2 separate regions of the Homo sapiens genome follow, and region 2 is reported to be linked to region 1. The links are microRNA targets in miRTarBase. Many come from high-throughput screens and were not tested one by one. Region 1 holds a microRNA gene; the other region holds the end of a gene's coding sequence. Distances are between the middles of the regions.
What was found. Region 1 holds the annotated microRNA hsa-miR-1228-5p (GUGGGCGGGGGCAGGUGUGUG, at 3,815-3,835, shown strand). A microRNA usually pairs through its seed, bases 2 to 8, with sites in the 3' UTR of a target mRNA and lowers its output. Matches are read on the target gene's strand: a 7mer-m8 pairs with bases 2 to 8, a 7mer-A1 pairs with bases 2 to 7 and ends in A, and an 8mer does both.

Region 1 (5,173 bases):
GGGTGGCTTTGCCCTGGCAGGCTTCCAGGTTCCAGGTGCCTACGCGTCCTGGCCTGTGCCCTCTGTTGTGGATTCTCAGGCTTTGCCTCCTGATCTCTGGACCCTCTTCCCCCAGCCTCATGTTCTGGACCAACTGGAATGAGCAGCATCCCAGCATCATGCGGGCGGCGCTCTCGGGAGCCAATGTCCTGACCCTTATCGAGAAGGACATCCGTACCCCCAATGGCCTGGCCATCGACCACCGTGCCGAGAAGCTCTACTTCTCTGACGCCACCCTGGACAAGATCGAGCGGTGCGAGTATGACGGCTCCCACCGCTATGTGAGTCTGCGGGGTGGGTGAGCTGGCGGGCGGCTGAGGGGAGGCCAGGGCCAGGGTCAGCCGTCAACCAAGACCGTCCAGGCACAGACATGGTGGGAACAGCTGGGAGGAGGTGAGTGCCTCCAGGCCCCAGCCTCGGTCAACCCCACCCTGTCCAGCTTGCTCCTCATCAGCTAGACGAGGGAGATAGCAGGATGCCTCTGCGGGCCCTCATTCTGTAGCTGTCAGAGGCCAGGCCAGGCTGTGGTCCGGTGGAGACTGGGCAAGAGGCCTGAGCGATGCTGTGACGGTGATGGTGCTGTCTCCACAGGTGATCCTAAAGTCAGAGCCTGTCCACCCCTTCGGGCTGGCCGTGTATGGGGAGCACATTTTCTGGACTGACTGGGTGCGGCGGGCAGTGCAGCGGGCCAACAAGCACGTGGGCAGCAACATGAAGCTGCTGCGCGTGGACATCCCCCAGCAGCCCATGGGCATCATCGCCGTGGCCAACGACACCAACAGCTGTGAGTGGGGCTGCCGCCAGCTGCCTCACCCTCCTGCCTGTCGTGCATGGACATACAAACACACACCCCACACACACATCGCACATACCACACGCACCCTACACATACCACACACACACATCCCACACATACTACACTACACACACCACACCACATACACACACCACACCCCTCCCACACACTCAACACATACACACCACACCATACACACCCCCCACACACCACATACACATACACCCCCAACACATACACACACATACACACCCCACATACACACACCACACATATCACATGCACACCCCACATATACCACACCACACACATACCACACACACACCACACACCACATACACACCACACATACCACACACACCCCACACATACCACATACACACACCACCACACACACTACACATACCACACACACACCACATACACACACCACATACACACACCACACATGACACATACACACCACACATAGGACACACATACACATGCCACACACCTACCACCCACAACACACATCACACACACACCACACAGCACACACACACACCACACACCACACGTACCACAAACATGCCACACACACACACACACATCTCACAGACATACTATAAACACCCCACACCCCACACACCACACCCCACACACACTTGCCTGGTCCTGCTCTCCCTGGGCCTCCATTACACAGACACACACAGCTGTACACACCTTTGGAACCGCAAAACCCCCAGTGCTCCTGTACCCCTTCCCACCAAGGCATCTACGCACACAGATGGACTCTGCACACGCCTGGCATCTCCTCCACGTTGCACACACACATTCATGTCACACCCGCCCCTCAGGGCTCATCCATGCCCTCGGTGCCCCTACCCTCACCCTGGTCACTCTCCTCACTTGGAGCCACACAGACAGCCGAGAGCCTGGGTGCACGTGCCCTCAGTGGGCACGAGTACATGCCCCAGCGCCCCCCACCACAGACCTGCAGCTTTCCCAGGTGTCTCCCATGCGCCCTGGGGCTCACTACTGCACCCGTGATCTCAGGGCCCTCAGACTCGAATCTCTCAGAAACACTCCTCAAAGCCCACGGTGCCCTGCCTAAAAGCACACACATCCTCAACGGCACACCTGCCGAAAACCCCATGCACCTGGCCCTCCCACAGCAGCCATCCCCATGCCCTCCCCACTGGCTGCAAGCCGCTGTGCCTGCCGTGACTGAGCAGAGGCTTGGGAGCTCCATGAAGTCAGTGAATGGGTGGGTGCACTCTGGGTGCATGCACAGCAGAGAACACTCTCCAGCCCTGCGCCCACCCTGTCCCTGCTCAGGTGAACTCTCTCCATGCCGAATCAACAACGGTGGCTGCCAGGACCTGTGTCTGCTCACTCACCAGGGCCATGTCAACTGCTCATGCCGAGGGGGCCGAATCCTCCAGGATGACCTCACCTGCCGAGGTGAGAGAGGCGGGGGGGAGGGGCTGGCGGGGAACCCAAGCACACACCAGGGATGGTGACCATCTCCCCTACATGCTCCAGCCCAGCCCCCCAAAGCCTTTTGCCAAGAAGACGCTGATGATGACCTCAGCTCCCCGGGGGAGGAGGCGTGGGCACTGGGGCCCACAGCGCTGGCTCAGAAAGCTCCCTCCACCTCCCTCCCCAGCGGTGAATTCCTCTTGCCGAGCACAAGATGAGTTTGAGTGTGCCAATGGCGAGTGCATCAACTTCAGCCTGACCTGCGACGGCGTCCCCCACTGCAAGGACAAGTCCGATGAGAAGCCATCCTACTGCAGTAAGGAGCCCCCTGCAGCCCCTGCCTCTTCCAGGCCCAGAGCCCAGGTCCTCCTCCCCCAGGCCCCTGCAGGATGGAGCAGGATCAGGACCCAGCTTCCTGACCATGAGTTTTGGGAGCTCATGAAGGGCAGAACCACTGTTAGCCTGGACTGGGCCTTTGGGTTTGGGGGTGGCCAGCTGGACACGTGCATGACGTCTCAGGGAGGCAGCCCTTTCCCTGTGCCTGTGGCTGACACGCAGCCTACTCCTCCATTTGCAGACTCCCGCCGCTGCAAGAAGACTTTCCGGCAGTGCAGCAATGGGCGCTGTGTGTCCAACATGCTGTGGTGCAACGGGGCCGACGACTGTGGGGATGGCTCTGACGAGATCCCTTGCAACAGTGAGTGAGGCGCACTGGCATAACCCATCTGTACCTCAGTTCCTGCCCCACCCCTCCCTGGCCAAGCTTTGTCCCTGGGCCCCGTGGTGTCTGGTTCAAGGCACTCTGTGACAGGCCAGGGCAGGTGCTGTGGGCCAGGAGCTCTGTCCTGCGTCCTTCTGGCCCCCACAGAGAAAACTCTGGCCTGACGATACGGGGCGGGCACTGTTCTAGAGACAGCCTGTGGTGTGGGCGAGTTCCGCTGCCGGGACGGGACCTGCATCGGGAACTCCAGCCGCTGCAACCAGTTTGTGGATTGTGAGGACGCCTCAGATGAGATGAACTGCAGTGAGTGACGCCCTTTGCTGGCACCTCCTGGGCTCCTCCCCATCGCTCACTGCATCTCCCGCCTTCAGGCCCTCCTGCACCTGCCCACATTCCTCTCTGCCTTCCCTCATCCCCGCTGACAGCCTCCATCTCCCTGAGGCCCTGTCCCCATCCCGCTCCTGCTCCTGGGCTCTCGTGGGGTTCCGAGAGGGGGCAGTGAGCAGATGGTGCAGACAGTGCCCCACCAGAAGGGCACCGTTCAACTTTTGGAAACACATGAAGGCTCCATAGGGCTGGCAGCTGCCCCAGTCGGGGGTGATCCAGGGGGAACCAGGTATCACCCTCACCCCTGCCCCCACCAGGTGCCACCGACTGCAGCAGCTACTTCCGCCTGGGCGTGAAGGGCGTGCTCTTCCAGCCCTGCGAGCGGACCTCACTCTGCTACGCACCCAGCTGGGTGTGTGATGGCGCCAATGACTGTGGGGACTACAGTGATGAGCGCGACTGCCCAGGTGGGCGGGGGCAGGTGTGTGGTGGGTGGTGGCCTGCGGTGAGCAGGGCCCTCACACCTGCCTCGCCCCCCAGGTGTGAAACGCCCCAGATGCCCTCTGAATTACTTCGCCTGCCCTAGTGGGCGCTGCATCCCCATGAGCTGGACGTGTGACAAAGAGGATGACTGTGAACATGGCGAGGACGAGACCCACTGCAGTGAGTGACCACTGCACCCACTCAGTGCTCCAAGAGCCTGCTGGGCCCCACTTCTTAGTCCCCCCCAGCAAATGCCCCCTTGGAAAAGGGCATCCAGAGCCTTCAACCCCCTGCCCCACACCCCAACTCTTGAGGTCAGACTCAGAGACTCTGCCTCTAGCTGCTGCTGAGCCCCCCCACAGAGGGGTGCTGTGGGCATCTCTCCTGTCCTTCCCATGGCATCAGCCTCCCCAGGTGGGTGACCCCCACCCTTCCCCATCTAACTGTGGCTTCTGACTGCCCCAGACAAGTTCTGCTCAGAGGCCCAGTTTGAGTGCCAGAACCATCGCTGCATCTCCAAGCAGTGGCTGTGTGACGGCAGCGATGACTGTGGGGATGGCTCAGACGAGGCTGCTCACTGTGGTAAGGAAGCTGGGATTGGGCCGGGGGAGGTGCCCCAGGGAGGGACAGACCCCACCCAACTCCACCCCACACACAGACACCCCTGCAGACGACGGCGAACCATCACCTCCACTGCTAGACCTGATCTACCCGCTCCTAAGTCTCTCAGTGGCCCTCTCTCCCCCTACAGAAGGCAAGACGTGCGGCCCCTCCTCCTTCTCCTGCCCTGGCACCCACGTGTGCGTCCCCGAGCGCTGGCTCTGTGACGGTGACAAAGACTGTGCTGATGGTGCAGACGAGAGCATCGCAGCTGGTTGCTGTGAGTGGCGGGGCCACGTGGAGCGGGTGGACAGCAAATGGCCACAGTCTCACTTTGCAGATGGGGAAGCCGGGGTGCAGGAGAGGAAATGCCTCAGCGGGGTCCACTGGGGGCGGAGCCATAGCTGTAGCCCAGGTGTCCAGACTCCTCATCCAGTGCCCTGCCCACTCTACCAGGAGAACCACAGGAGGTTAGAGTGAGGGACGGTCGGCCGCTGGCCAGGCAGGGCTGAAGGGCTGTGTCCACCTCTGTCCACAGTGTACAACAGCACTTGTGACGACCGTGAGTTCATGTGCCAGAACCGCCAGTGCATCCCCAAGCACTTCGTGTGTGACCACGACCGTGACTGTGCAGATGGCTCTGATGAGTCCCCCGAGTGTGGTGAGCCTTCGGCGGTGGTGGGAGGAGGCCCTGCCCTCTGCCGGGCCAGGGCATCAGCCTCACAGGTCCATTCCTCCCCCAG
Region 2 (5,151 bases), 12 Mb from region 1:
TGCACTTCATGCAATGAAATGAATCCCCCCCTTCCATCACATTGCAACAGATGTTGGGCCCTTCGTGAGAATTGGCTTCCTGAAGATAAAGGGAAAGATAAAGGGGAAATCTCTGAGAAAGCCAAACTGGAAAACTCAACACAAGCTGAAGAGGGCTTTGATGTTCCTGATTGTAAAAAAACTATAGTGAATGATTCCAGAGAGTCATGTGTTGAGGAAAATGATGATAAAATTACACAAGCTTCACAATCACAAGAAAGTGAAGACTATTCTCAGCCATCAACTTCTAGTAGCATTATTTATAGCAGCCAAGAAGATGTGAAAGAGTTTGAAAGGGAAGAAACCCAAGACAAAGAAGAGAGTGTGGAATCTAGTTTGCCCCTTAATGCCATTGAACCTTGTGTGATTTGTCAAGGTCGACCTAAAAATGGTTGCATTGTCCATGGCAAAACAGGACATCTTATGGCCTGCTTTACATGTGCAAAGAAGCTAAAGAAAAGGAATAAGCCCTGCCCAGTATGTAGACAACCAATTCAAATGATTGTGCTAACTTATTTCCCCTAGTTGACCTGTCTATAAGAGAATTATATATTTCTAACTATATAACCCTAGGAATTTAGACAACCTGAAATTTATTCACATATATCAAAGTGAGAAAATGCCTCAATTCACATAGATTTCTTCTCTTTAGTATAATTGACCTACTTTGGTAGTGGAATAGTGAATACTTACTATAATTTGACTTGAATATGTAGCTCATCCTTTACACCAACTCCTAATTTTAAATAATTTCTACTCTGTCTTAAATGAGAAGTACTTGGTTTTTTTTTTTCTTAAATATGTATATGACATTTAAATGTAACTTATTATTTTTTTTGAGACCGAGTCTTGCTCTGTTACCCAGGCTGGAGTGCAGTGGCGTGATCTTGGCTCACTGCAAGCTCTGCCTCCCGGGTTCGCACCATTCTCCTGCCTCAGCCTCCCAATTAGCTTGGCCTACAGTCATCTGCCACCACACCTGGCTAATTTTTTGTACTTTTAGTAGAGACAGGGTTTCACCGTGTTAGCCAGGATGGTCTCGATCTCCTGACCTCGTGATCCGCCCACCTCGGCCTCCCAAAGTGCTGGGATTACAGGCATGAGCCACCGCGTCCGGCCTAAATGTCACTTAGTACCTTTGATATAAAGAGAAAATGTGTGAAAGATTTAGTTTTTTGTTTTTTTGTTTGTTTGTTTGTTTGTTTGTTTTGAGATGAGTCTCTCTGTCGCCCAGGCTGGAGTGCAGTGTCATGATCTAGCAGTCTCCGCTTCCCGGGTTCAAGCCATTCTCCTGGCTCAGCCTCTGGAGCAGCTGGGATTACAGGCATGCACCACCATGCCCAGCTAATTTTTGTATTTTTAGTAGAGATAGGGTTTCACCATGTTGGCCAGGCTGGTCACGAACTCCTGACCTCAAGTGAGGTCACCCGCCTCGGCCTCCCGAAGTGCTGGGATTGCAGATGTGAGCCACCATGTCCAGCCAAGAATTAGTATTTAAATTTTAGATACTCTTTTTTTTTTTTTTTTTTTTTTTTTTTGAGACAGAGTCTTGCTCCATCACCCATGCTAGAGTGCAGTGGAGTGATCTCGGCTCACTGCAACTTCCGCCTTCTGGGTTCAAGCTATTCTCCTGCCTCAGCCTTCCAAGTAACTGGGATTACAGGCATGTACCACCATACCAGCTGATTTTTTTGTATTTTTAGTAAAGACAGGGTTTCACCATGTTAGCCAGGCTGATCTTGAACTCCTAAACTCAAGTGATCTACTCACCTCAGCCTCCCAAAATGCTGGGATTACAGATGTGAGGCACCTGGCCTCAGATTTTTGATACTCTTAAACCTTCTGATCCTTAGTTTCTCTCTCCAAAATACTCTTTCTAGGTTAAAAAAAAAAAGGCTCTTATATTTGGTGCTATGTAAATGAAAATGTTTTTTAGGTTTTCTTGATTTAACAATAGAGACAGGGTCTCCCTGTGTTGCCCAGGCTGGTCTCGAACTCCTGGGCTCAAGAGATCCTCCTGTCTTGGCCTCGCAAAGTGCTAAGTAGGATTACAGGCGTTAGCCACCACACCCGGCTGTAAAAATGTACTTATTCTCCAGCCTCTTTTGTATAAACCATAGTAAGGGATGGGAGTAATGATGTTATCTGTGAAAATAGCCACCATTTACCCGTAAGACAAAACTTGTTAAAGCCTCCTGAGTCTAACCTAGATTACATCAGGCCCTTTTTCACACACAAAAAAATCCTTTATGGGATTTAATGGAATCTGTTGTTTCCCCCTAAGTTGAAAAACAACTCTAAGACACTTTAAAGTACCTTCTTGGCCTGGGTTACATGGTTCCCAGCCTAGGTTTCAGACTTTTGCTTAAGGCCAGTTTTAGAAACCCGTGAATTCAGAAAAGTTAATTCAGAAATTTGATAAACAGAATTGTTATTTAAAAACTAACTGGAAAGATTGTTAAGTTCTTTCTGAATTATTCAGAAATTATGCATCATTTTCCTTCAAGAATGACAGGGTCAGCATGTGGAATTCCAAGATACCTCTTGACTTCCTCTCAAGCTCCGTGTTTGGTCAGTGGAGGCCCATCCGAGCTCAGCACTGAGAAGTGTTAGTTTCTTTGGGACCCATCTACCCTGACCACATCATGATGTTCATCTGCAGCTGTTGCAAGGTGTTCAGATTGTATAAACATAAATGTCACAAAAACTTTAAAAGAAGTGCAATTCTCAAAAGGTTAGGTGGACTAAAGCATTCTGTAAAGCAACTGCTAATAATGAGCTTACAGTGGATTTGAATTTGAAAAATATAGTAACAAGCCTGTCAAATATCTGCAAGAACTATGGAATAAAACTACTGATGCAGTGAAGACAGTTGAAAAGATCAAACAAATGCCAAGCTATATTTATAATGAACAAATTCAAGAAAAAGGACTACGGAAAGTTCAGGACATCAAAGAAGTCAGGCAAAACTCATCTTGACCCCTGTTGCAGGCAAAGGAACGCAGCTGGAAGAAAAGATGATATAACAGTTAACAGGATGCAGACATGGCAGAGGTTTCCTAAAAATCTCATTATCTATAACCATTTCTATATTTACATTTGAAAATCTCCTTTGGAGACTTAGAACCTCTAAATTATTGACTTATTTTTTATATAAGGTCACTCCGATGAAAGGTGATTACAAAATCATCTACATTGCTGTCTACAAAACAGATAATATGGATGTTTGATCGCATCTCATTGTTAACTCTTTACTGATATGTTTGTAAATACAGAAGTGAAATGTGGACATAAAATAGTTACGCTATTTGGTTAATGGTACTAGACAACATGTAATTAATGACATTCAAAAATTTATGGCTAGTGATATATATAAAGTAAAATTTTCTTTGCAGTAAAATATGCCCTTTATTATAGAAGGGAGGATATAAGGAACCAACAGTTTGTATGAAAATAGCTCAAATAATATCTTTTATTTTGATTTTAATATTTCTTATTTTGGTTTATTAGTGTCTTAGAACAAAATGGCCTTATATAATGAAGCCTAGTTATGCTGGACTGTTTTGATCTCTTTTAATTGTTCTGACAGATAGTTGGGGATGAGAGCCGAATAAGGTTTGCCTGAAATAACTGACACTATATAATTTCTGCTTTGGCAAATACTAAGTTCTAACTTGTCATTCCTGGTAGAACAAGCTTTATTTTTCGAGCCTAGCAATGATCTAGAAGCAGATGTTATCTCAGTGCCTTTTGCAATTTGTTGTGTGGGTTTTTTTTTTTTTAAAGCCACACAATAATTTTGGAAAACAATGTATGGGTAGAACATGTGTCTGTTAATTGCACACAAAACCACTTTTAATGGGTACAGAGTTAAATTTGAAGGAATAAGTTCTAGCTGAAGTATTATGAACTCCAAATAATGCTTTGAGGACCTCCAAAGGTAAAAGTACTAATCCCTTTGGCCATTTATTGAGAGAGAGAGAGAGAGAGAGTAGGGTGACTATAGTTAATGTATTGAATGTTCTTGCTACAAATAAATGATATTTGAGCTGATGGGTGTGCTAATTACACTGATTTGATCAATACCCATTGTATGTGAAACAGTACATACACCATATTTACAATTATGTATTTAACATTTAAAATTTCTAATATAAGTATCTCTCAAACTGTGGATTAACTTCTTGATTTATATTTAAATATGAATCTTAAGCAAAACAGTGAAAATAACCATCTTGATTTAGTGTTTTTCTCCCATATGTGAATTGTATATACTTAGGTGAAGACAATAAAATCAACTGAACTGTAAGCTTAGAATAGGACTGAGGTAATTCTGCACAGCAACTTTACTAATGGTACATTGTTGCTTCAAAACTCTCTCTCTCTCTCTCTGTCTGTCTCAATAAATGGCCAAAGGGATTAGTAGTTTACCTGTGGAGGTCCTCCAAGCATTATTTGGAGTTGATAATACTTCAGCTACAACCAAGCAGAATCTCTTTTTTTTGGAGGTCCTCGAAGCATTATTTGGAGTTGATAATACTTCAGCTTCAATTTGGAGTTGATAATATTTCAGCTAGAACCTAGTAGAATCTGTTTTTTTCCTTTGGAGGTCCTCAAAGCATTATTGGAGTTCATAATACTGAAGCTAGAACCAAGCAGAATCTGTTTTTTTCTGAGGAGTATCGGTAGCATAAATGTGATTATAAACATAGTACACTTGATATATGGAGGCAGTGACAGCTATTTTTACAAAATTTAAATCTGCAAATGGATTCAACATGTTTATGGGTTATTAAAATTGTCTGATTTCTTAGGTTCTTTATAGTACACGTGTTGAAAATAAATGATTAAGAATTGTTTCAAGAATGCAATTATTTGATCTTAAATTTTTATGAGTTGTTAAAATAGAAATTATTTGAATATCATATATTTGGGTAACAAAAGGCACAAGTCTGAATGTGTTTCTTTTTCTGGAATGGCCATGCCTGCCCACTTTAGAAATACAAATATCACTGGGCAGCTTGAAGCAGTTGGGAGCCTCCAATGAGAGCAACTTGAGAGAATGATGTTGCAAGTTAGTAGGAGTAAGAAATGCTGTGTTCTCCCTGTCTT

Region 2: miRTarBase lists MDM2 as a target of hsa-miR-1228-5p. Seed matches in the 3' UTR shown: 7mer-m8 at 1,100-1,106.

What each region holds. Positions count from the first base shown.
Region 1 is chr12:57,190,690-57,195,862 of GRCh38, forward strand. It overlaps MIR1228 (microRNA 1228), which reads left to right and starts at 3,815; the gene lies at 3,815-3,887. LRP1 (LDL receptor related protein 1) reads left to right here. Exons shown (of 89, transcript NM_002332.3): 43 at 116-320; 44 at 631-823; 45 at 2,156-2,281; 46 at 2,487-2,615; 47 at 2,877-2,996; 48 at 3,210-3,323; 49 at 3,665-3,814; 50 at 3,888-4,010; 51 at 4,296-4,412; 52 at 4,582-4,710; 53 at 4,969-5,091. RefSeq lists an enhancer at 1,871-2,370.
Region 2 is chr12:68,839,286-68,844,436 of GRCh38, forward strand. MDM2 (MDM2 proto-oncogene) reads left to right here. Exons shown (of 11, transcript NM_002392.6): 11 at 1-5,151. The coding sequence ends at 564. It also overlaps a transcript of CPM not described here. Among named protein-coding and RNA genes, the nearest start is that of MDM2, 34 kb to the left of the region's middle.